4 linked regions of the Homo sapiens genome follow. The protein of the gene in region 1 purifies or fractionates together with the protein of each later gene. This does not show direct contact. Each region holds a gene or a part of one and is shown on either strand. Other genes may lie near its edges.

Evidence for each region.
Region 2: the proteins of TNFRSF10B (region 1) and CFLAR purify together in Homo sapiens (affinity purification with western blotting, with the first as the bait; 5 studies listed by BioGRID). This does not show direct contact.
Region 3: the proteins of TNFRSF10B (region 1) and LAPTM4B purify together in Homo sapiens (affinity purification with mass spectrometry; 3 studies listed by BioGRID and IntAct, with this or other methods). This does not show direct contact.
Region 4: the proteins of TNFRSF10B (region 1) and FLVCR1 purify together in Homo sapiens (affinity purification with mass spectrometry; 4 studies listed by BioGRID and IntAct, with this or other methods). This does not show direct contact.

Annotation. Positions count from the first base shown.
Region 1 is NC_000008.11:23,059,008-23,066,034, reverse strand, and holds part of TNFRSF10B (tumor necrosis factor receptor superfamily member 10B isoform 1 precursor), read left to right. Parts: intron 1-7,027. UniProt on the Homo sapiens protein: Receptor for the cytotoxic ligand TNFSF10/TRAIL. The adapter molecule FADD recruits caspase-8 to the activated receptor.
Region 2 is NC_000002.12:201,154,151-201,161,177, forward strand, and holds part of CFLAR (CASP8 and FADD-like apoptosis regulator), read left to right. Parts: exon of another isoform or gene 1-257; intron 258-3,604; exon of another isoform or gene 3,605-3,642; intron 3,643-6,281; coding exon 6,282-6,792; intron 6,793-7,027. UniProt on the Homo sapiens protein: Apoptosis regulator protein which may function as a crucial link between cell survival and cell death pathways in mammalian cells. Acts as an inhibitor of TNFRSF6 mediated apoptosis.
Region 3 is NC_000008.11:97,813,785-97,820,811, reverse strand, and holds part of LAPTM4B (lysosomal-associated transmembrane protein 4B), read right to left. Parts: intron 5,485-7,027; coding exon 5,411-5,484; intron 4,755-5,410; coding exon 4,632-4,754; intron 1,673-4,631; coding exon 1,574-1,672; intron 1-1,573. UniProt on the Homo sapiens protein: Required for optimal lysosomal function. Blocks EGF-stimulated EGFR intraluminal sorting and degradation.
Region 4 is NC_000001.11:212,854,389-212,861,294, forward strand, and holds the start of FLVCR1 (choline/ethanolamine transporter FLVCR1), read left to right. Parts: upstream 1-3,886; 5' UTR 3,887-4,064; coding exon 4,065-4,802; intron 4,803-6,906.

The sequences.
Region 1 (7,027 bases):
TTGGGATTACAGGCCTGAGCCACCGTGCGCAACCTATGATTTTGGTGGTGGTGTTTTTTGTTTTTCTGTTTTTTAAATATTCTTGAGTATATTTGTAAGCTTTAGATGACCTGTTTTAAGTTATTTAATCTATCAACACCATTATATCTGTTATTACGGCCACTGTTTCTGTTGATTACATTTTTTTTCCTGCCCATAGGGACTTTTTTTTTCATGCATAGTAATTTCTTATTGCTTGACATTGTGAATTTTGCTTTCTTGGGTACCGAACATCACTGTGTTCTTTCAAAGTCTATTGGGCATTATTCTGGTCACAGAAAACTGAGGATCAGTTTGCTCCTCTGATACTAGCTTTTATCTACATATAACTATATACCTTGTGTTCAGTTGCCTTATTCAGGGGCTCATTTAGTTAACTACTAAAGTTATAGTGGTTGACTTCTGATGGTAACTCGCCAGCACCCTGGCATGCGTTCTGTCCACTGTGGGAAGGGGAACATGCAGATCTCCCAGCCCTGAGTGGTCCACAATCTAGTCTCTCCTTCCCTGGGTGGCTTCTTCTCAGGCACCTAGAGTCAGTCTCAGCAGACACTGGACATGTCTTCTGCAAGGATCCAGAGTCCTCCAGGCAGCTGCTTCTCCCAGTCTCTGCCCTGCACTTGGCCTCTGGGAGTTCCTGCCTGTGGTTCTCAACAGAGACTACAGAGCTCTACAGGGTCCTCTGCCCCTGCTGTAGCTGGAGGCTGTCCTTACGCAGTGAGCTGAGGCCACAGCTAGTCTCACTGCATGTGCTTGGCGGCGGGGACAGGAGTGATTCATTCATCAGGTAGAGGAGGAACCCTTTACTCTGGGAAAATCTGTGCCTGGGTTGGGGAAGGACAAATGAGCCCTGTGTGAATACTGACTACTCCCTGGAGCCCACAGTCTGGTGGAGCAGGTGACAGCAGGGACCTAAATAACTATCAGGAAGCATGAGGTCCCACCACTGTCACCTCCCCCACCTCCAGAGTGGCTGTGCTGGCTCCAGAGATGTCATCCCTCCATATTTGACTGACAGAGGGAGGCTGTGCAGTCCCAAGGCTCCAGGTCATGGTAGTTTGGCCAGGATAATATGGTTTGCTTAAAATCAACATTGAGGGTAATGATCGTACTAATCAGAGCATGTGTTTAAAGTTCTGTGTTTTAAGCACTTTCCATACATATTAACACTTTCAGTTCACACAACAACCTATGCAGGAACTGTGATTATCCTGGGCAGTTTTAAGGATGTGGGTGACTCAGAGAGGAAAGAAGAGGTTACTCGGGTTAATTTTTGACGAGAAATATTAGCAGGTTTTATGCTCAAACTTGGTGTAAAGCAAGGAGCCTGAATCACAGGTGGGTGAGTCACAAGACAGGGAAACCCCGCCAATGGCTCATGTCCGGGAGGAGGCAGGGTCCCTAGAATTCAATGGGACAAGAACTGAAATAAGCCAAACCCCTGACCTCCCTTCTTCTTGTTTTCCTTCTCTCTCTTAACCATGCCCATGGACACCCCCATGAGCCCATTTCTGTGGCCCAACACAGCTGTGCATCTCTGGCCACACGCCCATTCTCCCTCAATCAGAGAGGCCCACGGACGGCACAGCCTCGTCCTGCACAGCAGAAAGAGTGAATGGTGATGAATGGATCTATATTATTTCAACTCTCCTACATTTTGTAATCATATTACAATATTAATTCAGCAGTACCTCTCTTGTTTTTACTCCCCTCCCCCATTACACTGGATTCCTGTCTGTCTGGGATTCTGTCTGTGTGCACTCTTTCCTCTATGTCCACTACTGTCCCTGCCACCGATGGCATTTGTCACCTCTGCCTGGGCAGCCCCTCCAGACTCTTTGCAAGTTCATGGACTTTGGGGTTAATGATGGCTGTGCCTCAGCTCCTGTGAATGGAAACTGTGCTAAGGAAAGGAAGGGCCGTGCCATGTTCCCGATACTCCACGGCTCCTTGCATATGCGGTCGCCAGGCGCCTACATGCCTTCCATGAATGAATGAATGAGTAACGTGGATTCTAGGAAGCTGCACTAACCCAGACGTTGTGTCCTCAGCCTGCTCATAGAGTGTGTTAAACGTGAGAGGTGGGGAGTGTGGCAGGCAGGCTGAGGACAGAACAGAGGATCTGAATAGAGTACGGAGGATCACCCAAGTCCAGAGTCACCAAGGCCATTGTCAAGTTTTCCCCGGGGACATCCCTCATCAGATCCACCCATTAAAGATCATTGTTCACCCAGTGGAGAGTGGACTAGGTGGGTGCACTCAGGTGTGGCCTGGACAGCATTCGGGATGGGTCCTAGTGGTTAGGGTGAGGGTCAGGTTGCATTATCGTGAAGGAGGCAAGTGGCAGCTGAGGCAGATCTGAGGGAAATGATGATAACGCAGGCCGGTGATGCAATGGGTTTGGTAAGAAGAGGAAAGAGGTTTGTGGTGGATTCTAGTGTTTCTAATCTGAGACTTGGGTGAGGTCATTACCAAATAAGAAAGAGTAAATGGGCATAAATGGCTTTAAGAATTAGGAACCTGAATGTGCTATTGGAGACAGTATGGGCACGTCATTGCTCATAGACCTGCAGTACACAAAATGCTAAAAGATTTCAATCTGAATAGAGATGAAATGAAATGGAAACATGGATTTTTTTTTTTTTTTTTGAGACAGTTTCACTGTTGCTGCCCAGGCTGGAGTGCAATGGCGCAATCTCGGCTCACTGCAACCTCTGCCTCCTGGGTTCAAGCGATTCTCCTGCCTCAGCCTCCTGAACAGCTGGGATTACAGGCGCTTGCCACCACACCCAGCTAATTTTTGTATTTTTAGTAGAGACCGGGTTTCACCATGTTGGCCAGGCCAGTCTCAAACTACTGACCTCAGGAGATCCACCGCCTTGGCCTCCCAAAGTGCTGGGATTACAGGCATGAGCCACCTTGCCTGGCTGGGAACATGGATCTTAAGGAAAGAAGGAAGATCATCAGGAATAGAAATATGAATGCACATATAAAGAATGATTATTTCCTCTTAATTTCTTGAAAATATTCACTATCAAGTAATATAACACTTTGTAGGGTTTGTAACATATGAACATGCCTGAGACAACTATAGCAGAAAGAATGAGTAGTGGAGATGAATCAATCTGTATTATTTCAAGTCTCCTACATTTTATAATATTACCATATTAATTCTGCCATACAACTCAGTAATGAAAAGGAATGGAGTACTGATGCATATGAAAATATGACCGAATTTCAAAATAATTATGCTGAGTTAAAGAAACCAGACAGAAAAGCATATATAGTATCTGATTCCATCTATGATATTTATAGCCAGAAATGGTTTAATTAAAAAAGAAGAAGGATCTTAAATCAACGAGCTAAGTTTACAAATGTAGGAATTAGAAAAAGAATGAACCAAACCTAGAGTTAGCATTATAAAGGAAATAATTATTAGAAGAGAAATAAATAAAACAGAGAATAGAAAAACAGTAGAGGCCGGATGTGATGGCTCACGCCTATAATCCCAGCACTTTGCGAGGCCAAGACAGGAGGATTGCTTGAAGCCAGGAGTTTGAGACCAGCCTGGATATGGCAAAACCCTGTCTCTACAAAAAATATAAAAAGCAGCCTGGCCCGGGGGAGCACACCTGTGATCCCAGTTACTCGGGAGGCTGAGGTGGGAGGATCACTTGAGCCCCGGAGATGTAGGTTGCAGTGAGCCAAGATCACATCACTGCACTCCAGCCTGGGCAACAGAGTGAGACTCTGTCTCAAAGAAAGAAAGAAAAAGAAAAAAGAAAAACCATAGAGAAAATCCACAAAACCAACATTGATTCTTCAATACTATTAATTAAACTGACAGAATTCACTAGTGAATTCTAACAAGCTTTTAATGAAGAGCTAATACCACTACTTCTCAAACTCTTTCAAAAACTTGAAGAGAAGGGAACCTTTCTTGACTCTTTCTGTAAGGCCAGCATTGCTCTGATACCCAAGCAGATAAAGATATTACAAGAAAATAAAGCTATATCCCAGTATCCCTAACTGATGCAAAAATCTTCAACAAAATACTATCAGAGAGAATTCAACAGTACCTTAGATGGATTATACACCATGACCAAGTTGGATTTATTTCCGGAATGCAAGAATGTTTGAACAAATGAAAACTGAACAATGTAATACATTGCATTAATAGAATGAAGGGGGAAAAAGACACATGATCATCTGAGTTGATACAGGGAAAGCCTCTGATAAAATTCAAAGCCCTTTCATGATGAAAACACCCAGCAAACTAAGAATAGAAGAAAACTTCCACAACATCATAAAAGCCATGTAAGAAAACCCCACAGCTAACATCATACTCAGTGTTGAAAGACGGAAAGCTTTTCCTTTAAGATTAAGAACAACATAAGGATATCTACCCACCTTTGCCACTCAGCATAGTACTGGAAGTTCTAGCCAAAACAGGCAAGAAAAAGAAATAAGAGCATCTGGACTGTAAAGGAAAAAGTAAAATAATCTGTGTTTTCAGATGATATGATCTTACTGGTAAAAAATCCAAAAGATTTCACAAAAAATTAAACTGCCAAAAATAAAATAATATTAAATTTTTAAAATTTTGAAATTTATTGTTGTTCAGTAAAAGACAGTACAGATTGCAATCTGGGAGATTTCAAACCAAGTGGTAAGAAACTTGCCTTACAGCAGGTATAGTACAGGCTATAAAGGAGGATGTATTTTGACAATTTCATGATTGACTTATAAATTTATATTCTTTTTAAAGGCAATCAGAGCTGTTTAAGCTGATTTTTCTATAGCTGCTTGATTTAACTTCACTGAACCATATTATGTCATGATGAAGGTGTAAAACTTATATTTTGTGGGATTTTTTATGATTATAGCTAATGTTTCAGGGATATCAGGATGTCTTAAGTTTTGGCTACATGGTTATGGGTAATTGCCGTGGGGTATATCTAAACTGTGTTTTTAATTTTTATTTAGTAGTACTAAAATGAATTCATCAAAGAAGCGGAATACAAAATCAACTGGAAAAGTCAATTGCATTTCTATACACTACCAATGAACAATTCAAAAAAAGAAATTAGGAAAAAATCCATTTACAATAGTATCAAAAATAATAAAATAGGAGTAAACTCACCAAGGAGGTGGAAGACTAGTACAATGAAAACTATAAAACATTACTGAAAGTAATTAAAGAATACAAAAATAAATGGAAAGATATGCCATGATTATGAATTATAAGACTAATTATGTCAACATTTCCTAAAGTGATCTATACATTCAATGTAATCTCTATCAAAATCCCAAGGACATTTTTGCAGAAATGAAAAAATGTATCCTAAAATTCATATGGAATTTCTAGGGACCAGAATATCCAAAACAATCTTGAAAATGAATAAAAATGTAGTAGGATTCACACTTCCTGATTTTCAAAACTTCCTACAAAGCTGCAGTAATCAAAACAGGATGGTACTGACATAAAAGCAGATAAATCGATCAGTGGAATAGAATAGAGGAGCCAGAAATAAACACTCACATATATGGCCAAATTATTTTTCACAAGGATGCCAAGACTGTTGAATGGAGGAAAGGGCCGTCTTTTCAATGAAGGGGGCTAGGAGAACCGGATATCCACATTCAAAAGAATGAAGTGAACCTTAGCCTAACATTGTATTTAAAAAATAGCTAAAAACAAATAAAAGATGTAAATGTAAGTGCTAAAGCTATAGAACTCTTGAAAGAAAATATAGGATAAAAATTCTGTGACATTGGATTTGGCAATAATTTCTTGGATGTGACACCATGGACATAGGCAACAAAAGAAAAAATAAACATTTTGGACTTCTTGAAAATCAGTAACTCTTGTGAATCAAAAGATACTATTAACTGGATAAAAAGGCAAAACCCACAGAATGAGAGAAAATATTTTAAGTTATATATCTGATAAGGGCTTAATATCTAAAATATATAAAGAATTCCTACGATCTAACAAAACAAAAACAACCCAGTTAAAAATGGGCAACTGATTTTTATAAACATTTCTCCAAAGCAAATATACAAATGGTCAATAAGTATATGAAAAGATACTTTAATCACTAATCATTAGGGAACTGCTGGTCAAAACGACAGAGATACCATCCTATACCCATCAGGATGACTATTATAAAAAACACACACAGGCCGGGTGCGGTGGCTCATGCCTGTAATCCCCACACTTTGGGAGGCCAAGGCAGGCGGATCACGAGGTCAGGAGATTGAGACCATCCTGGCTAACATGGTGAGACCCCGTCTCCACTAAAAAAAAAATACAAAAAAATTAGCCCGGCGTGGTGGCAGGCGCCTGTAGTCCCAGCTACTTGGGAGGATGAGGCAGGAGAATGGCGTGAACCCAGGAGGCGGAGCTTGCAGTGAGCTGAGATGGCACCACTGCACTCCAGCCTGGGCGACAGAACGAGACTCTGTCTCAAAAAACAAAAACAACACACACACACAATAAGCATTAGCAAATTTGTAGAGAAGTTGGAACCCTCGTGCCCTGTTAATGGGAATGTAAAATGGTGCAGCCACTATGGAAAACAGTATGATAGTTCCTCAAAAGTAAAAACAGGATTAGCAGATGATCCATCATTCCCACTTCTAGGTATACGTCCAAAAGAATTGAAAGCATGGTTTCAAACAGATATTTGTACACCCACGTTTATAGCAGTATTATTCACAATAGCCAAAAAGTGGAAGAAACTCAAGTTGGACAGATCAATAGATAATGTGGTATATTCATACAATGGAGTATTACTCAGCCTTGAAAAGGAAGGAAATACTGGCACATGCTACACAATGGATGAACATTAAAGACATGCTCAGTAAAATGCCATTCATAAAAGGACAAATGAAATAGGATTCCACTTGAGGTACCTAATGTAGTCAAATTCATAAAAACCAACAGTAGAATGTTGGATGCCAGCGGTTGTAAGGAGGGAAGAAT
Region 2 (7,027 bases), on another chromosome or scaffold:
GCGCAATCTCAGCTCACCGCAATCTCCACCTCCCAGGTTCAAGCGATTCTCCTGCCTCAGCCTCCTGAGTAACTGGGATTACAGGCATGTGCCACCATGCCCAGCTAATTTTGTATTTTTAGTAGAGACAAGGTTTCACCATGTCGGCCAGGCTGGTCTCGATCTCCTGACCTTGTGATCTGCCCACCTCAGCCTCCCAAAGTGCTACGATTACAGGCGTCAGCCATCATGCCTGGCTTATTCTCTCCATTTTCAAGGTGAGGAAGCTGAGCAGTGAACTACACTCCTACCTTCTCTAGTACTGATTGAGCTGGGATTCAAAAGCTGGACTCCAAAACCTATGCTTTTAACTACTTTGCCTCAATATAATTTCCATGAAGGTGAGGGAGTTTATCTATCTCCTACTATGGGTCTCCAGTACCTGGAAGAATACCTGCTATGTAGGTGTTCAATAAATAATTGTTGGGTGAATGAATGAAGGAATAAGCTCTCCCAGTGTCAGTGTGTTTCTAAAAGCCATTCCTTTTTATCTTTAGAGTTTAGCAGACTCTCTTCTACCTATCTTCCCTTCTCTCCTCAAAAAACCAGACTTTTATCCAAAAAGCATGCAAGTCCCCCAAGTATTTAAAGCTTTATTTCTTTGTTTGTCCAGTAAATGTTCGTTGAGGGCCTACTATGTGCAAAGCACCATGCTTGGCCCTGTGTGAAGCAAATATTAAGGCAATGAGGTGGAGTCTGATCTCAGAGCTGTGTTGTGCATGAAATAAGGTTATTCTTTGGTAGTTCTTTCTTGAGAAGAATTCTTATGGAGTTCAGTAACCTCTTCTTGAGGCAGAAGTAAATGCTCAGGGATTTGGGAACTAATTATCTCAGTTTGGTAGAATTGAAAAATAAGTCTTTGGTGTTGTGTCATCTGTGTCAGTGACAGCAAAGCTGGACCTGTGCTAGGCCCTGGTGGGTCATCTTTAAGCACTGGACTTTTATCTTGTTAGGAATATAGAAGCAAGCGTCTCACATCTCTGACAGATGGGCTTTACGGCTTGGCCTAAAGCTCTGGTTGTTTTTAAGGCCCTTGAATAAAAATAAAAGACGATGTTTGCAGATTTTAAGAGGAAGTTTTTTTTTTTTTTGAGACAGAGTCTCGCTCTGTCACCCAGGCTACTGGAGTGCAATGGCGTTATCTTGGCTCACTGCAACCTCTGTCTCCCGGGTTCAAGCGATTCTCCGCCTCAGCCTCCTGAGTAGCTGGGATTACAGGCACCCGCCATCATGCCCGGCTAATTTTTGTATTTTTGTAGAGATGGGGTTTCACCATGTTGGCCAGGCTAGTCTTGAACTCCTGACCTCAGGTGATCCGCCCGCCTCGGCCTCCCAAAGTGCTGGGATCACGGGGATGAGCCATCGCACCTGGCCAAGAGGAAGTATTTTTTTTTTCTATCCTGCTCTTTCTGAAAAGCTTGAACATTTTTCTGTACTTTCCTTTTCTTTTTTGAGACAGGGTCTTGCTCTATCACCCAGAATGGAGCACAGGGGTACAATCATGGCTCACTGCAGCCTTCACCTCCCGGGCTCAAGCAATCCTCTCACCTCACCCTCCCAAGTAGCTGGAACTACACACAGGCGCCACCACATCCATCTAATTTTTAAAATATTCTGTAGAGACAGGGTCTCACTATGTTGCCCAGGCTGGTCTCAAACTTCTGGGCTGAAGCAATCCTCCCACTTCAGCCTCCTGAGTGGCTGGGACTACAGGCACATGCTATCATGTCTGGCTAACTTTGTTTTTTATAGAGACAGGGTCTTTTGCTGTATTTCCCAGGGCGGTCTTGAACTCCTGGCTTCAAGTGATCTTCCTGCCTTGGCCTCCCAAAGCACTGGGATTATGGCCATGAGCCACCACGTAATCTTTGTTTTATGCGTATTTATAAGCTTTGCTTCCCCAACAAGATTATAAGCTCTTTGATTGAAGTACATCATATATTTGATATGTATTCTCTTGTCCAAGTGTTTCTGTAGGCAATAAGGGGAACTTTGTAAAACAAGAGTTTTCCGGTCAAGTAAATTTGAGAAGCGCTGCCTAATCTCTTCCCCCTCAGAGATTTGCAATGCATATTGACCTATTAAAGGCTCTGAGAATTCTTCCTGCGAAGAAACCTATTTTAGCCTTGTCCACCTTGCATTTCCCAAACACGTTTGACCTCAGAACTCCCTTTTTCACTAAGAATGTTTTGCCCATCTTATGTTTTACCCATGTGCTCTATAGCAGTTAACACTGGGCTTATTAAAGGTACTCAATATGTGATTGTAAATTAACTGGTGAAGCATTCCCTCATTCTTGTTTATTTTATACATTTATTTAATGAAGCCCTTTTCATAGAAATTGTCAAGATAAATGTATCCTCATTTAGATCAAAACAAATTCTAAATTAATGAAGTCATGACATTTTACTGTATTTTGGTTTTTTTGGTTTATCTGTGAAGTCCTCAAACCTGTGAGTAGTGCTGACCCTAGCCTTGAATGAACAGCCCTGTACTAACTGCAAGGCCAGAAGAACCCCTGCCCTTCCCCTCCCCACCCCCCCACATCATTTCCAGAAGTTCTAAAGAACAGTTGAAATTTACGGAGATCAGACTGGGTTGAGTGTGGGATTTCCAGGGTGGGTTCTAGAAGGAGAAGTGGGTCTTCTGTAGTTTGTTGAAATTTTATTTTCCAAACCCAGCCCCCAAGTTTTTCTTCCTCTATTTATGTGCAAGGACAAAACAGTTACTGTCCTACCTACATAGGATATGGACTCTGTCTGCTCTGAGCCCATTTTAGTTTAGAATATAGAGACCTCCCTCCAGGTCCTAAGAGAGAGATTCCATGAGAGATGTGCAACACCATAAGGTTGGTGATTTGTACTTTGAAATGGCTGCCTTTATTTCCTTTAAAGTCAATATCTTATATTTGAATAAACACAGTTTGCAAAGCATCTTTACAGAAATCTCATTGGATCCTCACGGTCACCTTTTTTCTGAGACAGAGTCTCACTCTTTCACCCAGGCTGGAGTGCAGTGGAGCGATCTTGGCTCCTCCACTTCCTGGGCTCGAGTGATCCTCCTTCCTTAGCCTCCCAAGTAGCTGGGACCACAGATGCGTGCCACCATGCCCAGCCAATTTTTGTATTTTTGGTAGAGATGGGGTTTCGCCATGTTGCCCAGGCTGGTCTCAAACTCTGCAGCTCAAGCAATCCACCCGCCTTGGCCTCCCAAAGTGCTGGGATTACAGGTATGAGCCACTGTACCCTGCCCTCACAGTCACCTTTTGAAGAACCTCCTGCTCAAGAGATCCTCCTGCCTCAGCCTCCTGAGTAGCTGTGATGACTACAGGCTTGTACTACCATGCCTGGCTAGTTTTTTTATTTTTTGTAGAGACGGGGTTCCCTGTGATGCCCAGGGTGGTCTCAAACTCCTGAGCTCAAGCCATCCTCCCACCTCAGCCTCCCAAAGTGCTGGGATTGTAGGTGTGAGCCACTGCACCTGGCCAAGCATTAGTTTTAATCTTGTTTTATAGATGAATAAACTGGGGCTGACTCAAACTGACTCAAAGTCACACTGTCATTACCTTTTTGATCCTGTACGTTAGACTGGGCTGTATGCATGTTCTTGCTGGCGCAATAAAGTTGCAAGTGCCAGCTAACAGCCCTTCCCACTCCACCTCACCACCTCATAGAGGAAAATTGTGACGTTAATGGGAAATGTCAGCGGTAATGTCTTCAGGCTGGGCCTGTGGAGTGACTCCCTTGCCACAGGATATTTAAGCAATGCTGTGTCTTGTCTGAGGCTCAGACCTGCTATTCTTATTGGCACTTGGGACCTGCATGGTTTTTGGCTTCACCTCCAGCTTTAGCCATTTTTCTTCTGTTCTTTTAGGTAAGGATTTTCTGCCCCAGACCTCAGATTCCCATTTCCTTCCTAGCTTCTCTGCTGTTATAGCTCAGTCTCTTCCAAGACCATGCAAGATTCAGACCCTAGTAGGAGGAGATGGAGGAACTAGGACTTAAACCCACATCTTGTGATTCCAAGGCTGGTTCCTCTTTTGCCCTGCACCACACAGCTGTCTGCTCACAGTCATGTGACAGGGGCTTCCCCAGCCAGAACCTCCAGGGAGCACAAATAAAGGAAAGAGCTGGAAGGCACAGTACAGCATTTGTTCTGTCCAAGCCTTACATATCAGCATGGGCAGGGAGAATGTGGTGAAGTTTTCTTTCAAGGACTTTGTTTGATAAGGAAGGACATTTATCAGTGAAGAGAGGTTTTGAGGGAAGTGAACCAATCTTGAGATAAGTACACAAAAGAGCTTTGAGTCTGGTGTTTCCCTGTTTGCTTCTGCCCCCTGGAGGAGCAAATACTCCATGATTAGAGACGTGTGAGTCCTTTGGAATAGAATAGCAGTGATGGAACTGGAGTCCTAGTCCAGGTTCTCTCCTTGTTCAGCCTGGATTCAGCACTGGGTATCGAAACAAGCCTGCACCCTCAGAGGAGATGGCTAGGGGACAGTGCGTCCAGGCCTCTTCTACCACACAGAGTTTTCTTTTTTTTATAAAGGGTATACACATTTAAAATTTAATGATACTCCCAAATTGCTCTTCAAAAAGGCTGTGCAAAATTACAGTCCTGATAACAGCTACCCAGAGATCCTGTAACGGCATTTGCCCTCATCATTATTATTATTATTATTATTATTATTATTATTATTTGAATTTGAGACGGAGTTCTGCTCTGTTGCCCAGGCTGGAGTGCAGTGGCGCAATCTTGGCTCACTGCAACCTCTGCCTCCCGGGTTCAAGCAATTCTCCTGTCTCAGCCTCCCTAGTAGCTGGGATTACAGGTGAGCACCACCACGCCTGGCTAATTTTTGTATTTTTAGTAGAGACGGGGTTTCACCATATTGGCCAGACTGGTCTCGAACTCCTGACCTCAGGTGATCTGCCCGTCTCGGCCTCCCAAAGTGCTAGGATTACAGATGTGAGCCACTGGGGCTGGTTGCCCTCACTATTTAATGGGTTATTTGCAACCTGTGAATCATGTCTCCTATTTCCTTGTTAATGATGCTTATTGATTATAGACTTAGGAATATCAGCACCTCCTTTGTAGCTCTTCATTCTTACATGATATAATAATTAATTTTTTTTTTTGAGACAGAGTCTCACTCTGTTGCCCAGGCTGGAGTGCAGTGTCACAATGTTGGCTCACTGCAACCTCCACCTCCTGGGTTCAAGCGATTCTCCTGCCTCAGCCTCCTGAGTAGCTGGGACTACAGGTGCGTGCCACTACACCTGACTAATTTTTGTATTTTTAGTAGAGACAGGGTTTCGCCATGTTGGCTAGGCTGGTCTTGAACTCCTGACCTCAGGTAATCTGCCCGCCTCAGCCTCCCAAAGTGCTGGGATTACAGGTGAGCCACTGCGCCCAGCCAATAATTCATTGTTTAATCCTTAGTTGTGGGCCAAGCAAAGGAGAAAAGTAAGAAGCCTTTTCCTTTTACCGATAGGAAAGGTCAAAGGACTTACCTGGTGAATTATTTACCTAAAAATGTATACAAATCACTCCAAAATTTAGTGGCTAAAAACAACAGTACTAATTTAATTATATCTTCACAGTTACTAATTTAATTATATCCTCACCTGTGGGTGAGGAATTTAGGAGCAGCTTAGCTGGGCTGTTCTGGCCCAGAGTCTAGTGAAGTTGTGGTCAGTTGTCAGCTGGGTCATCTGAATGCTTGATTGGGATTGGAGGCTCCACTTCTATGGTGGTCACTCACATGACTGAGAAGTTGGTGCTAGCTGTTGGCAGGAAGCCTGTTCTTCATGTGGGCCTCTCTGAGGGACTGCTTGAGTACTTTCATGATGTGGTGGTGGGCTTCTCCCAGAGTGAGCCACTCAGAAGAGAGAAAGATTGTGAGGTCTGGACTTCAATAAGAAGATTGTTGAAGAAAAAAAGGTTTTGTCCCCCCTTGGTTTGATTGGACTAGAGTGGGCTCAGTCTGTGCCTGTGGCTGGCATCAGGCAGGAACAGTGGTATAGCAGGGTATAGACCATATTTAGGGACCTAAAATCACATCTTTCATGATTCATGTGGTTCTTGTTCCAACTGCCCAGGACTCAGGCACATCAAAATATGACACAAAAGCAGAAGCTTTTCATAATGGAGATTAGACCATGTCTAGGATTCCTACCCAGTCCTCTTGAGCTCTCCTCACTCCAGTGTTGTTTTCCGTGTTTGTTTTTTGTTTTCCCCAGAGCTTCTTCGAGACACCTTCACTTCCCTGGGCTATGAAGTCCAGAAATTCTTGCATCTCAGTATGCATGGTATATCCCAGATTCTTGGCCAATTTGCCTGTATGCCCGAGCACCGAGACTACGACAGCTTTGTGTGTGTCCTGGTGAGCCGAGGAGGCTCCCAGAGTGTGTATGGTGTGGATCAGACTCACTCAGGGCTCCCCCTGCATCACATCAGGAGGATGTTCATGGGAGATTCATGCCCTTATCTAGCAGGGAAGCCAAAGATGTTTTTTATTCAGAACTATGTGGTGTCAGAGGGCCAGCTGGAGGACAGCAGCCTCTTGGAGGTGGATGGGCCAGCGATGAAGAATGTGGAATTCAAGGCTCAGAAGCGAGGGCTGTGCACAGTTCACCGAGAAGCTGACTTCTTCTGGAGCCTGTGTACTGCGGACATGTCCCTGCTGGAGCAGTCTCACAGCTCACCATCCCTGTACCTGCAGTGCCTCTCCCAGAAACTGAGACAAGAAAGGTGAGCCCCCAGGAGGTGGTCAGTTCCGGACCACCTGCTTATTTTCGTGCCACCAGGATGGGAATTACCACTGTGCCACATTTGCTGCCCATCTCTTCCGGGAGGAAAAGAGATTTTCCCTCCTGCATTGGGCTTGCCCTAGGACTACAGTATAGACCCGGCATGATTTATAAATACTTTGTAGTTAGTTAGTTTGTAGTTTGAATACTTTTCTTTAAAATTAAGAAATTTTCAG
Region 3 (7,027 bases), about 75 Mb from region 1:
GGTTGCAGTGAGCCGAGATCGCACCTCTGCACTCCAGCCTAGGTGACAGAGTGAGACTCTGTCTCAACAACAACAACAACAAGACGGGGTCTCACTCTGTCACCCAGGCTGAAGTACAGTGCTGCTATCATAGCACACTACAGCCTCACACTCCCAGCTCAAACAATCTTCTCACTTCAGCCTCCCAAAGTGTTGGGATCACAGGTGTGAGCCATTTCACCTGGCCAACTGGTTTCCAATGAACCACTTTCTTTCTACTCCTTTTCATCACAGTACCTATATGAATTTTCTGCCTCAATGCAGCTTTCCCAAGTTTACTGAGGCATGATTTTTGAAGAATGACATAATTTTATGCCAAAATTAAGACAATGAAAGGCATTGAGATTCAAAAATTCAAAGTATGCTGGGTGCAGTGGTTCACACCTGTAATCCCAAAACTTTGGGAAACCAAGGCAGGAGGCAGCCTAGACTACAGGGAGAGACCCTACCTCAAAAAAAAAAAAAAAAGAAAGAAAGAAAAATAAATAAAAAAAGAAAAAAGTTGAAAGCATAAAGAGCCATGAGAGTTTTCTACCCATTAGTAGCTCATAAGCACAAGTTATAATGATGGTTTTATAAACAGATTGACCAAGATGAAAAAGAATTTGCAGCAATTGATTGATAAGGGTGAGGCACTGCTGCAGGAAGTAGAAGTCATTTAACTTTGGGGGACATCAATTTGACAACCTATCAAAGGCTTTCCAACCATGAACACCCTGATTTTAAGAAATTTATCTTGAAGCCGGGCACAGTGGCTCATGCCTGTAATCCCAGCTTTGGGAGGCCGAGGTGGGCGGATCATGAGGTCAGGAGATCGAGACCATCCTGGCTAACACAGTGAAACCCCATCTCTACTAAAAATACAAAAAAATTTGCTGGGCATGGTGGCGGGTATCTGTGGTCCCACCTACTGGGGAGGCTGAGGCAAGATAATGGCGTGAAGCCGGGAGGCGAAGCTCGCAGTAAGCCGAGGTTGCGCCACTGCACTCCAACCTGGGCGACAGAGCGAGACTCCATCTCAAAAAAAAAAAAAAAAAAAAAAAAAGGAAATTTATCTTGAGATAAATGCATAAATATAAGGATGTACTTAAATATATTCACTACAGCCCTATTAAGTGAAAAAGTAAAAAATGTCTCAATGCTCATCAAGTAATTTATTAAATAATGATATTCATATAATGGATTGAGATAGAACAATATTCAGAAAATATTACACTTTTAGCAAAAAATTACAAAAGAATATCCATTACACAGACCTTGTAACAGACGTTGCAATATCATATACTATGTAATGTATAACATTATGTTAACTTATCTCTGTCCAAATATATTTTGGACTCCTTGATCAAACTGTGGAATTTTGATTAGTGTTTACCTCCAACATAGACAGCATAAAGAATTGTAATCTTAGGAAATCAAAAAGCAATTTGGATGTCCAAAGAAAGACAATAAACTGACCAAAGTTTGTTTACTTATTTGGTATTCAGGAATACACTTAATATTTTTAGACTATAAGTAAAATCTTCATGCTTACCTTAAAAGTCAAGATAATGCTAATAAACAGAAGAATAATAAGGACCAAACAGGTAGGATTCACTGACATGACATCATCTCTGTAGGGAAAATTAGGAGGCTGCAAAAGAAAAGGGCCTCATTAGCAAATCTCATTAATCATTCCAGACAGTATTCCTTGGGCACCAATTCAGACATGCTTATCAGAAAGCAACTGATTAAAGCAGACAGCTATTATTTAGAACCAATACAAAATTTCTAGCCTGACTCTGCCCTCTTACCATATAAAAGACGTCAGTGATCGGTATCCAGGGACATTTTGTATATCCAGGGATCTCTGAAATTTGTATTCTCTGCAAGTTCTGAACCATTCCTTTTTTTTTTTTTTTTCTTTTTTGAGATGGAGTTTCTCTCTGTCGCCCAGCTCAGCTACTTGGGAGGCTGGGGTGAGCAAATCACTTGAGCCCTGGTGGTGGAGGTTGCAGTGAGCGAGATCATGCCACTGCACTCCAGCCGCCCGGGCGACAGAGCCAGACCATGTCTCAAAAGTTCTGAACCATTCTAAAGGGCATATGCAGGGCAAGGGACAGAAACCTACTAAAATGAGGTCTTCTTTGCAAAGAGCATTTTTGTTGATGGTACTTCTCCCAAGACAGCATATTCTCTTATACTAGCAAGTACTTCCAGGGTGGGGGGAAATAATCAAGCACTACCATCCACAATGCTTAACAACCAGGTCAAAGGGAACCTTTTCAGGAGGATCAAAGTCTGCTACTATGGTTAGAGGGAGTTGCCGGACTTTCCCCACAGAACACTCACACAGCATTGATCAACGCCTACATCACTGGCCTAGGCAAGTGAATGGGAAGGCAGCCTACTGTGCTATCTCATCTTTTATCTCCCTTCACCATTCAACACTATGTGTTTGGATTCCTCACGAGCAATATTCCAAAACAAAGTTGTTTCCAATGTTGAGGAAGAACATGGAGAAGGCCCATGACTCATGGGCTTGGCTCCTGCTCACCAGGGTGAACACCACCTAATGGTTTTCAGTCTCCTTTCACTTGGGACAAAATATCTAAGAAATAAAATCGTCATTCTTTGTGATCAGATCATGCAACTTTACTCTTTTATTAATAAAATAACTTGGCCAAGCACAGTGGCTCATGCCTGTAATTTCAGCACTTTGGGAGGCTGAGGCAGGCAGATTGCTTGAGTGCAGGTGTTTGAGACCAGCCTGGACAACATAGTCAAACCCCATCTCTACTAAAAATACAAATTTAGCCGGGCATGGTGGTGCATGTCTGTAGTCCAAACTACTTGGGAGGCTAAGGTGGAAGGATCACTTGAGCCCAGAAGATTGAGGTTGCAGGCTGGGCATGGTGGCTCACGCCTGTAATCTCAGCACTTTGGGAGGCCAAGGTGGGCGGATCACCTGAGGTCAGGAGTTCGAGACCAGCCTGGTCAACATGGCAAAACCCCACCTCTACTAAAAAAAAAATACAAAAATTAGCCAGGCATGGTAGTGGGCGCCTGTATTCCTAGCACTCTGGGAGGCCGATGAGGGTGGATCCTCTGAGGCTAAATGTTTGAGACCAGCCTGGAAAAGATGGTGAAACCCCATCTCTACTAAAAATACAAAAAATTAGCCAGGCTTGGTAGCGGGTGCCTGTAATCCCAGCTACTCAGGAGACTGAGGCAGGAGAATGGCTTGAACCCAGGGAGGCGGAGGTTGCAGTGAGCCGAGATCACAACACTGCACTCCAGCCTAGGTGATAGAGTGAGACTCTGTCTCAAAAAAAAAAAAAAAAAAAAGTAAAGTTGGCCTGGTACAGTGAGTCACATCTATAATGCCAGCACTTTGGGAGGCCAAGGCTGGAGGATCACTTGAGTCTAGGAGTTTGAGACAAGCCTGGGCAACATGGTGAAACCCCATCTCTACATAAGATACAAAAAGAAAAATTAGGTGGGCATGGTGGTGCATGCCTATAGTGCCAGCTACTCAAGAGGTTGAGATGGGAGGATCACGGGAGCCTGGGAGGTCAACGCTGCAGCAAGCCATAATCACACCACTGCACTCCAGCCTGGGTGACAGAGACCCTGTCCCAAAAATAAATAAAGTTATTCCAACCTCATAGCCATTATAAGCTTCTTAATACCCTGCCACCAATATTCACTCATATGGTCACAAAGGACATTTAACCGTAAACTAGTCCCAAAATGATGCTTGAGAAAGGGATTCTATGGTCAAACAAATTTGGGAGCTAGTATACAGCAGTGTTCCACTTTCTTTCCACTTTCTTTTGATTTTTCTTTTTTTTTAGATGAGATCTCACTCTATTGCCCAGGCTGGAGTGCAGTGGCGTGATCTTGGCTCACTGCAGCCTCCACCTCCCAGGTTCAAGCAATTCTCCTGCCTCAGCCTCCCGAGTGGCTAGGGTCACAGGCGTGTGCCACCTCTCCCAGCTAATTATTTTGTTTGTTTTTGAGCAGAGTCCCACTTTCAACACACTAGCAAAGGCAAAAAGCTATCCTTTGTTGATAACTGAGAAAACTACATTTTACCAAATACGACTATTAGTAACTGGACTATAATTTAGGTAGGCACATCAACCACCACCATCACTGCCACCAATCATAACCCCGGCCCTCAAAACTTTATCAGGCCAGGCACAGTGGCTCACACCCATAATCCCAGCACTTTGGGAGGCCAAGATGGGTGGATCACCTGAGGTCAGGAGTTCAAGACCAGCCTGACCAACACAGTGAAACCCCATCTCTACTAAAAATACAAAATTAGCCAGGTATGTTGGTACATGCCTATAATCCCAGCTAGCTGGGAGGCTGAGACCCTGGAGGCAGAGGTTGCAGTGAGCCGAGATCGCATCACTGCACTCCAGCCTGGGTGACGAGAGCAAGACTCCACCTCAAAAAAAAGAAAAAAGAAATTTCCTATGAGTAACTCAGCTGCAAGCTAAAAATCCTGAAATTAATGTCTGTGTATCTCTACACATCCCTTACTTAACCAGCTTCCCTAATGAAAAGAATTAATGAAAAGGAGCAGTAAGAGGTCCACGTACCAGTTGCCGTATGTATTCCTGAATGGAGTTTGGATAAATAAGCACAGTGATTGCAACCAACATGTTCAGGGCAAAGTCAAAGATCTGGTAACAGAAGAATGGGATGATCCAGGCTGCGCGTTGCTAAACAGAACAGAAAATAGAAAGTTAATGTGTTCAATATTATAAAACAATATTTTTCTTAAATTCAAAGTATTTTATTAATCTGAAAGGAAATGGAAAAATTGGAATTCATTAACCCAGGTCATGGTGGAAACCAGTATGCCAAATATAAGCAGTCAACAAATAAGCTTCAGTGAACATTTCCAGGACTGGCTGTGTGTGGTGTCTCACACCTGTAATCCCAGCATTTTGGGAGGCTGAGGTGGGTGGATCACTTAAGGTCAGGAGTTCGAGACTAGCCTGCCCAACATGGTGAAATCACGTCTCTACTAAAAAATACAAAAATCAGCAAGGTGTGGTGGCACACACCTGTAGTCCCAGCTACTCTGGAGGCTGAGGTGGGAGAATCACTTGAACTTGGGAGGCGGAGATTGCAGTGAGCTAAGATCACACCACTCTACTCCAGCCTGTGTGACAGAGTGAGACCCCGTCTTCCCAAAAAAAAAAAAATTTCCAGTATAATATTGGTTTTCCTAGTACCACATAATACAAACGAGAGATTTAAACAGAGATTCTTAACAGAAAACTGGAAAGTCACTTCTCACTATAGACAGCAGCACAGATTACACATGTAAGAGACCAAGGAAAAGGCCAGCATCTTACTGCAAGCGGCTTACCTTGTACGCTCCGTAAGTAGCCATAGCACATATCAGGATCATGAGAAGAGAAATCGCAATGGCAATGCACATGTCTGCCGAAAGATTAAAAAGAATTTCTTTAAAAAAGACAATCAGTAGTGGATCCACTGAATACTTTCAGTCTCTTCTCAAAGGCATTTTGTAAATAAACTAGCATAAAGTTAGTAAATACTTTATACTAAGAGATTATTTCAAAATAGAAAAAGGGATATTGGTTTACAGATTTTTTTAATGTTTGTTCTTCTGGTCCACTGGATTATATAAATAATGAATTAGGTATTACTTTATAGATATATAGGTGTCTAACTTCTATTTTGTAAACTCATGTGTGCCTCAAAGCTCTAATGAAAGCCTTCATAGCTTCCGATCTTATTTAAAATAAAAACTCCGGCCAGGTGCGGTGGCTCACACCTATAATCCCAACACTTTGGGAGGCCGAGGAGGGCGATCACGAGGTCAGGAGATTGAGACCATCCTGGTTAACACAGTGAAACCCCATGTGTACTAAAAATACAAAAAATTAGCCGGGCGTGGTGGTGGGCACCTGCTGACCCAGCTACTTGGGAGGCTGAGGCAGAAGAATGGCATGAACCTGGGAGACAGAGCTTGCAGTGAGCCGAGATCGCGCCACTGCACTCCGGTCTGGGCGATAGAGCGAGACTCCATCTCAAAAAAATAAATAAATAAAAATAAAACCTTCATTTCTTATCAAGGCCTTGATGTTCCTCTTTATTCCAGAGCAGTCTACCTCTCTAATCTCGCCTCACCTTGTCCCACTCTCTTGCTTGCTCTAAGACAGCCATATCATCTGGTTCATTCTATTTTATTTATTTTTTCTTTTTTCTTTTTATTTTTTTGAGACAGAGTCTCACTCTGTCGCCCAGGCTGGAATGCAGTGGGACAACATTGGCTCAATGCAAATTCCGCATCCCAGGCTCAAGCAAGTCTCCCAGGCTCAAGCAAGTCTCCCACCTCACCCCCTAGGTACCTGAGACTACAGGTGTGCTCCACCATGCCAATTTTTATATTTTTAGTAGAGACGGGGGTTTCACCATGTTGGCCAGGCTGGTCTCGAACTCCTGACTTCAAATGATCTGCCAGCCTCGGCCTCCCAAAGTTCTGGGATTACAGGCGTGAGCCACCATGCCTGGCCTTCAACTTCTTTTTTCCTTTAGTCAATCTCTGGTAAATAAGGAGTCTTGTTTGGTCTCCCAATCTGGAGTTGCAGTGGTGTGATCATGGCTCATTGCAGCTTCAATTGCCTGGGCATTGTCACTATGGGATTATAGGCATAAGTCACCGCACCCGGACAAAAATATCTTAAACCAACTTGGCAGGTACACAACTGCTTGTAGCACCATTATTTGCTACGGGTAATAAATATTTTATAAATATTCTTTTATACCTACTCAATATTTAATAAGAAATAATTTTATAAAAATGAACCCCAAACTATTGGTTTTTTTAAACTGCTTTTCCTAGATCTGGCAGAACAAATTATTGTCAATGAGAAAAATAATATTGGTTTTCATTGTACATGCAACTTCTCTAAAAGCTTTGCATTTTTTCGACAGAGATCTAGAGGGGAAAACATAA
Region 4 (6,906 bases), on another chromosome or scaffold:
ACTTTTTTTGTTTTTGTTTTTGTTTTTGTTTTTTTCTGAGACGGAGTCTCGCTCTATCGCCCAGGCTGGAGTGCAGTGGCGCGATCTCGGCTCACTGCAAGCTCCACCTCCTGGGTTTACGCTATTCTCCTGCCTCAGCCTCTCGAGTAGCTGGGACTACAGGCGCCCACCACCATGCCCGGCTAATATTTTGTATTTTTAGTAGAGATGGGCTTCACCGTGTTAGCCAGGATGGTCTTGATCTCCTGACCTCGTGATCCACCCGCCTCGGCCTCCTAAAGTGCTGGGATTACAGGCGTAAGCCACTGCACCTGGCCAAGATTTTTTTTTTTTAAGAAACAGATTTCACGTGGTGGTGGGCGCCTTAATCCCAGCTACTTGAGAGGCTGAGGAGGGAGAATCGCTTGAACCCCGGAAACAGAGGTTGCAGTGAGCCGAGATCGCATCACTGCACTCCAGCCTGGGTGACAAGAGCGAAACTCCGTCTCAAAAAAAAAAAAAAAATAATAATAATAATTTAAAAAAAGATTTCCTTCCTTCTCTCCTCCCTCCTTTTTTCCTTCCTTCCTTTCTTTTTCTCTCTTTCTTTCTTTCTCTCTCTCTTCTTTCTTTGTCTCTTTCCTTTCTTTTCTTTCTAATTTGGCACACAAACACTTTATTTAAATGCATATCTCAATTCCTGTGCGGCTGGCAAATAAAATAAAGGAGCAGATCATGGCACAGCATTCTCATGGACCAAGTGGTCGAACCCAACATCCAAGACCCAGTGAGCAGCCAAGCTCAGTGCAACCTCCAGGCCTCTCGCTCTGACTCCAACAGGGTGAGCACATAGCCCTTGCGCATGGGGTCTTTTACACTGTGGATGATGGAGTGGCTTGTGTCTTCCATAAATTCCCGCATGCACTGTCCCTGAGAGCTGGTTCTGCCCAGGACCTTGGTGACCCTGGCTAGCTAGATAGGCTGCACATGGCTGGTGTCTGTGATGGCGATGCAGCAGCAGTTGGGCAGAGAGAAGAAATAGATTTCTTTACAAAGCAAGTAATTATTTAAAATATTCACGGTAATTCAGTATTCATTAGCTGTACTCAGTAAATATTTATTGAACAGCTACTATGTGCTAGGTACTCGCACAAAGTACACTGGTTACAAATTCTTGAAAAATAGTAGCGGTAGCAAAAAGCAACAAAACTTTCAGCCCTGCCCTTATGGAACTCACATTCTAGTGGGCAGGGAGAAAATAACCAGAAAAAGGCCCAGCACAATGGCTCATGCCTGTAATCCTAGCACTTTGGGAGGCCGAAGTGAGCTGATCAGTTGAGACCAGTCTGAGCAATGTGGCAAAACCCCATCTCTACAAAAAATACAAAAAGTACTCAGGCTTGGTGGTCAGCCGAGAGAGAGAGAGAGAAGGAAAGAAAGAGAGAGAGAAAGAAAGAAAAGAAAGAAAGAGGCCAGGCTCGGTGGCTCAGGCCTGTAATCCCAGCACTTTGCGAGGCTGAGGCGGGCGGATCACGAGGTCAGGAGTTCAAGACCAGCCTGGCCAATATGGTGAAACCCTGTCTCCACTAAAGAAAAATACAAAAATTAGCCAGGCATGATGGCGCGGGCCTGTAGTTCCAGTTACTCGGGAGGCTGAGGCAGAAGAATCGCTTGAACCTGGGAGGTGGAGGTTGCAGTGAGCCGAGATCGCGCCACTGCACTCCAGCCTGGGTGACAGAGCAAGACTGTCAAAAAAAAAAAGAAAGAAAGAAAATAACCAGAAAAAAAAAGTAAAAATATAGGACATTTTAGGTGAAGGTAAGCACTAGGAAAGAAAGAAAAAAAAAAGCAGGGAAGGGATGTTGGCCGGGGCGGGCGGAGGGGGGGATTTATACAGTTTGGCCAAGGAAGACATTATAATAATGCACTTATTCCTTAGTTTAGAACATGTAGCATTTCACCTGTACCGAGAGATGCCTGATATATTTCATACATGACCAAAATAATAATGTAAGAGGCAATAAAAAAGTGCAGGGTTTTAGGGTTCTAGATATCAGCACATTTTAAGATTAAATGCATGGTAAGAACTTTTGTACTATATACACCTAGTTTGAACTTAAATTTAATAACAAACTCTTTGGAGTCTCTCTCTCTCTCTTTTTTTTTTTTTCCCAAACATAGCTTCCCAAGGAGCAGAAGGGCTGAATTTTCTCTAGTTCCAGGAAGACCGCAAGGCTACTGTGCTCTGGATGTCTCGTTTTTATTTTTTTATTTTTTTATTCTCCAGATCTCAAGACGGTGTCTGGCACATACCATTCAATACAAGTTTGGTACCTGGAACCCACTGAATATGCATGTCCAGTAACTATTAACTACATGTGTTGGTGCAAGGGAGAAGGTCGAGCAACCGGATCTGCTCCATCATAGCCCGTCTCAGTCGCTTCATTCAAGTCAGCGGGGTGAGGTTGAGGGGATTCCAACTTCACAAGGGCAGATTTCTCATGGACTCTCTTTCTCTGGTTGTACTGGAACACTTTCTGGCGTTATTCCTCTGCTGGGACAGCATGAACTTATGAAACGTGGTCCTGTCTGCCCTAAAGCCAGGGTCTCACCGACAAGGACAGCGATGCTGGGGCGAGAAATAAAGTTCGTCCTGGGCCTGCGTACGGTACAGCGCCCTTGGGAAGCCCTTGTGGAGTTAAGGGTGATGCCCACTTCTTTGTCTCCCTCATTCTGTTTCGGTGGCTCTCTCGTTCCCAGTTCCAAGCTGCCCACTTGTTAGAGGAGCCACTGCTTACCAGGCATCTGGTTTAATAAAACATGGCTAGAGCGACTGCATGTTAAAGTGAGTAACTAGGCACTCACAAGGCACCTATAAGGTTAATGCTAAAGGTCTGAAAATAGCCGCATTCTAAGCTGACCAACAATTATAATTACACAATATTTATGGCCATACAGGACATCTCCCACCAAGTCTGCGGAATTGTCCAGATGTCCTGAGTTTTTTTTTTTTTTTTAGACAAGGTCTCACTTTGTCGCCCAGGCTAGGCTGGAGGGCAGTGTGGTGCGATCTCAGCTCACTGCAACCTCCGCCTCCCAGGTTCAAGTAGTTCTCCTGCCTCAGCCTCCTGAGTAGCTGGGACTACAGGCATGCACCACCACGCCTGGCTACTGGCTTTTTTTTTTTTTTTTTTTTTTTTAAATAGATGGCATCTCAGTATGTTGCCCAGGCTGGTCTCGAACTCCTGGGCTCAAGGGAGACTCCTGTCCGGCCTCCCACAGTGCTGGGATTACAGACGTGGCCACCGAGCCCGGCCCAGCCCTCTACTCAGAGATAACGTCAATGCGCAGGCTTAGGTTGAAGGATTAATGGTCATTAGTGCACCAACAGCCCCTACCTTTAGTGGGCACATCAGCACATTCCACGATTAATCACAGCTCCTCACAGCTGCCTCTAAGTAGTGACACTACCGAAGGACGGGAGTTCCTCCTCCTGCAGTCTGAGGACTTGCACTCTCTAACGGAGTAGATTCCAATAAACTTGCTTCCTTCACTGCGCTCTGTGACTCGCCTCCAATTCTTCCCTGAAGTAGACCCAAGAACCCTCTCTTGGGGTCTGGATCGAGACCCCTTTTTCCAGCAACACAACCCGCGGGGCCGCCTCCCGCCCACCCTCAGGTGCAGGAGACCCCGGGCCATGCATCCTTCCGGGCAGGAAAATGTCAGCCAGCGCTCGCCGGCCGCTTTCCTCCCCCGCCTCCCGAAGTTCTCGCCCGGTAGCTCCCCGACTGGCTCTCGCGCCGGACAAAGGCGCACGCTGATTGGCCGGAGGGCCGTAGTCATGCAGGACGCGCGACTCTAGGGGCGGGACCAGACAAGGGGTGACTGCCGCGCGGCGCGGGGGAGGAGACCTTCATCTGTTCACGCGGTAGCGCGGATTGCGGTTCGCGGCGCGCGCCACCGGGGAAGGAGCGGTGGGCCGAGGGGTTGGAGGTGGGGCCCCAGGAGGACCTCGGGCTGTGGGCCGGGAGAGCGGAGTCGGGGAGTGGGGCGGGGGAGCGAGGTGGCGCCGGGGAGCCTGGGATATGGCGCGGCCAGACGATGAGGAGGGGGCGGCGGTGGCGCCCGGACACCCGCTCGCGAAAGGATACCTCCCGTTGCCGAGGGGCGCGCCCGTTGGGAAGGAGAGCGTGGAGCTGCAGAACGGGCCCAAAGCGGGCACCTTCCCGGTGAATGGGGCCCCCCGGGACAGCCTCGCTGCCGCCTCGGGAGTTCTGGGCGGGCCTCAGACTCCACTGGCCCCAGAAGAGGAGACCCAGGCCCGGCTGCTGCCTGCGGGCGCGGGAGCTGAGACCCCGGGGGCCGAGAGCAGCCCGCTGCCCCTTACGGCGCTCTCCCCGCGGCGCTTCGTGGTGCTCCTGATCTTCAGCCTGTACTCGCTGGTCAACGCCTTTCAGTGGATCCAGTACAGCATCATTAGCAACGTCTTCGAGGGCTTCTACGGTGTCACCTTGCTGCACATCGACTGGCTGTCCATGGTGTACATGCTGGCCTACGTGCCCCTCATCTTCCCGGCCACCTGGCTGCTGGACACCAGAGGCCTGCGGCTCACCGCCCTGCTGGGCTCCGGCCTCAACTGCCTGGGTGCCTGGATCAAGTGCGGCAGTGTGCAGCAGCATCTCTTCTGGGTCACCATGTTGGGCCAGTGCTTGTGCTCGGTGGCCCAGGTGTTCATCCTGGGCTTGCCCTCCCGCATCGCCTCAGTGTGGTTTGGGCCCAAAGAGGTGTCCACAGCTTGTGCCACCGCCGTGCTGGGCAATCAGGTAAGTACTGGAGTGGTAGGTGAAAGTCAGATCCTTAAAAGACCGGAAAAAGTCATAGGCCGTGAGAACTATGGCCTGTATGGATGAACTGCCCCAGGAGGTATTTGTCTATAAAAGAGGAGATGAAGCCGTTGAATAGGAGGCCGTCTTGGATTGAAGTGGGCTATAAATTTCTTTGTAAGGACAAAATTTTCCAAACGACCTTGTCATCTTGCTTTGAAAATTACCTATAAAATAATTAACTGGGCCGGGCGCGGTGGCACACACCTGTAATCCCAGCACTTTGGGAGGCCGAGGTGGGTGGATCACTTCAAGTCAGGAGTTCCAGACCAGCCTGGGCAACATGGGGAAACCCCGTCTCTGTTAAAAATACAGAAATTAGCCAGGCCTGCTTGCGGGTATCTGTAGTCCCAGCAACTCAGGAGGCTGAGGCAGGAGAATCTCTTGAACCCGGGAGGTGGAGGTTGCAGTGAGCGGAGATTGCACCTTTGCACTCCAGCTTGGGTGACAGAGTGAGACTCTGTCTCAAATAATAATAATAAACTGTAACCATAATAATAATAATAATAATTAACTGTATTGGCTTGTGTATGCCTAACATGGAAAATTTGTCAATGCAGTAACGAACAAGACTTGGGGTATTATTTTTGTCACCAGTGTATTTGTGAAAGGAAGGTATTGGGTTCTGGGAAGATTGTTTCCATTTTGAGAGGTCATTGTGAACAGCTCCCTTTTAATTTCATATATTAGCAGTCAGCACAGTTCCTGGCACATAAGGGACACATAAATGACTGCTAACCAAAAGTTCTGGGCTGGGCGTGGTGGCTCACGCCTGTAATCTCAGCACTTTGGGAGGCTGAGGCAGGCGGATCACTTGAGGCCAGGAGTCTGAGACCAGCCTGGCCAACATGGCAAAACCAAATACACAAAAATTAGTGGGGCATGGTGTGGTGCATGCCTGTAATTCCAGCTACTCAGGTGGCCAAGGCATGAGAATCTACATGCTTATTGCTTTATAGTCATTTCCCTTATCTAAAAGTACAGAAGATGGAGTAGGTTGAACTATAGTTGTTTGTCCAAAATAATTTATGACTGATACTTGAGTTGGTTGCATCTGCAGGTTTGGACAGAAGCTATTATAAAGTTTTTTGTGTGTGTGGTTTTTTTTTTTTTTTTTTGTAGAAATGGGGTTTCTCCATGTTGCTCATGCTTGTCTCGAACTGCTGAGCTCAAGCTCTCTGCCCACCTCTGCCTCCCGAAGTGCTGGGATTACAGGTGTGAACCACCACGCCCGGCCATGATTACATTTTCTTTGTCACACATCTCTCAGTTTAAATTCATTTTTAAATATTCAGTAGCATTTCTTGATCCCATTTAGAGTTGCCCAGTCACTCTCTTTACATTATTTTACTTTAATTCTCCTTATAGCACTCATCCCTGTCTCATATGTTATTGTTTACATGTTCATATGTTACTTACCTATTACTTTTCTCTTATCCCCACCATTAGATTGTAAGTTTCATGAAAATAGGAATGTGGTCTGAATGTACACAGCTGTATCACCAGCATTTATTACTCTCCATAAAACCATGTTGAATAAATAAAGGAGCTTCAGACTCATACAGATACTGGCCAGCTGGATAGTCTACTTGGATATCTCATGGGAACACACCACTCAAAATTGCTTTCTCCTTGCTCATTTCCCTTTATCTCTAATGCCACTGTCTTGGTTTGGGCCACCCACAGCTCTCACCTAGAGCTTGCTAACTGTCCTCCCTATCTGTAGCCCTTGCTGTCTTCCCTCTGTTCTCGCATTCATCCAGCGTGGTCTTTTACAATGTGCAAATCTGTTCCGGGCACATCCTTACCCCCTGCAGTGGCTTCCATTGTCCTTAGGATAAAATTCAAACACTCTAGTGTGACATATGGGACCCTCCAGATCTGCCTCCTGCCAGCCCTTCCACTTTATCTGTATGCACAACCCCTGTCCCCACAGACATATGCTTTCTCTGCTCTGTGCAGAACTATGCCTACTTATAGTTTCTCACAAGGTCGTGCCCTTTCCCTCCTGGCCTTGTATGTAATGTCCTGTTGGCTTGGAATA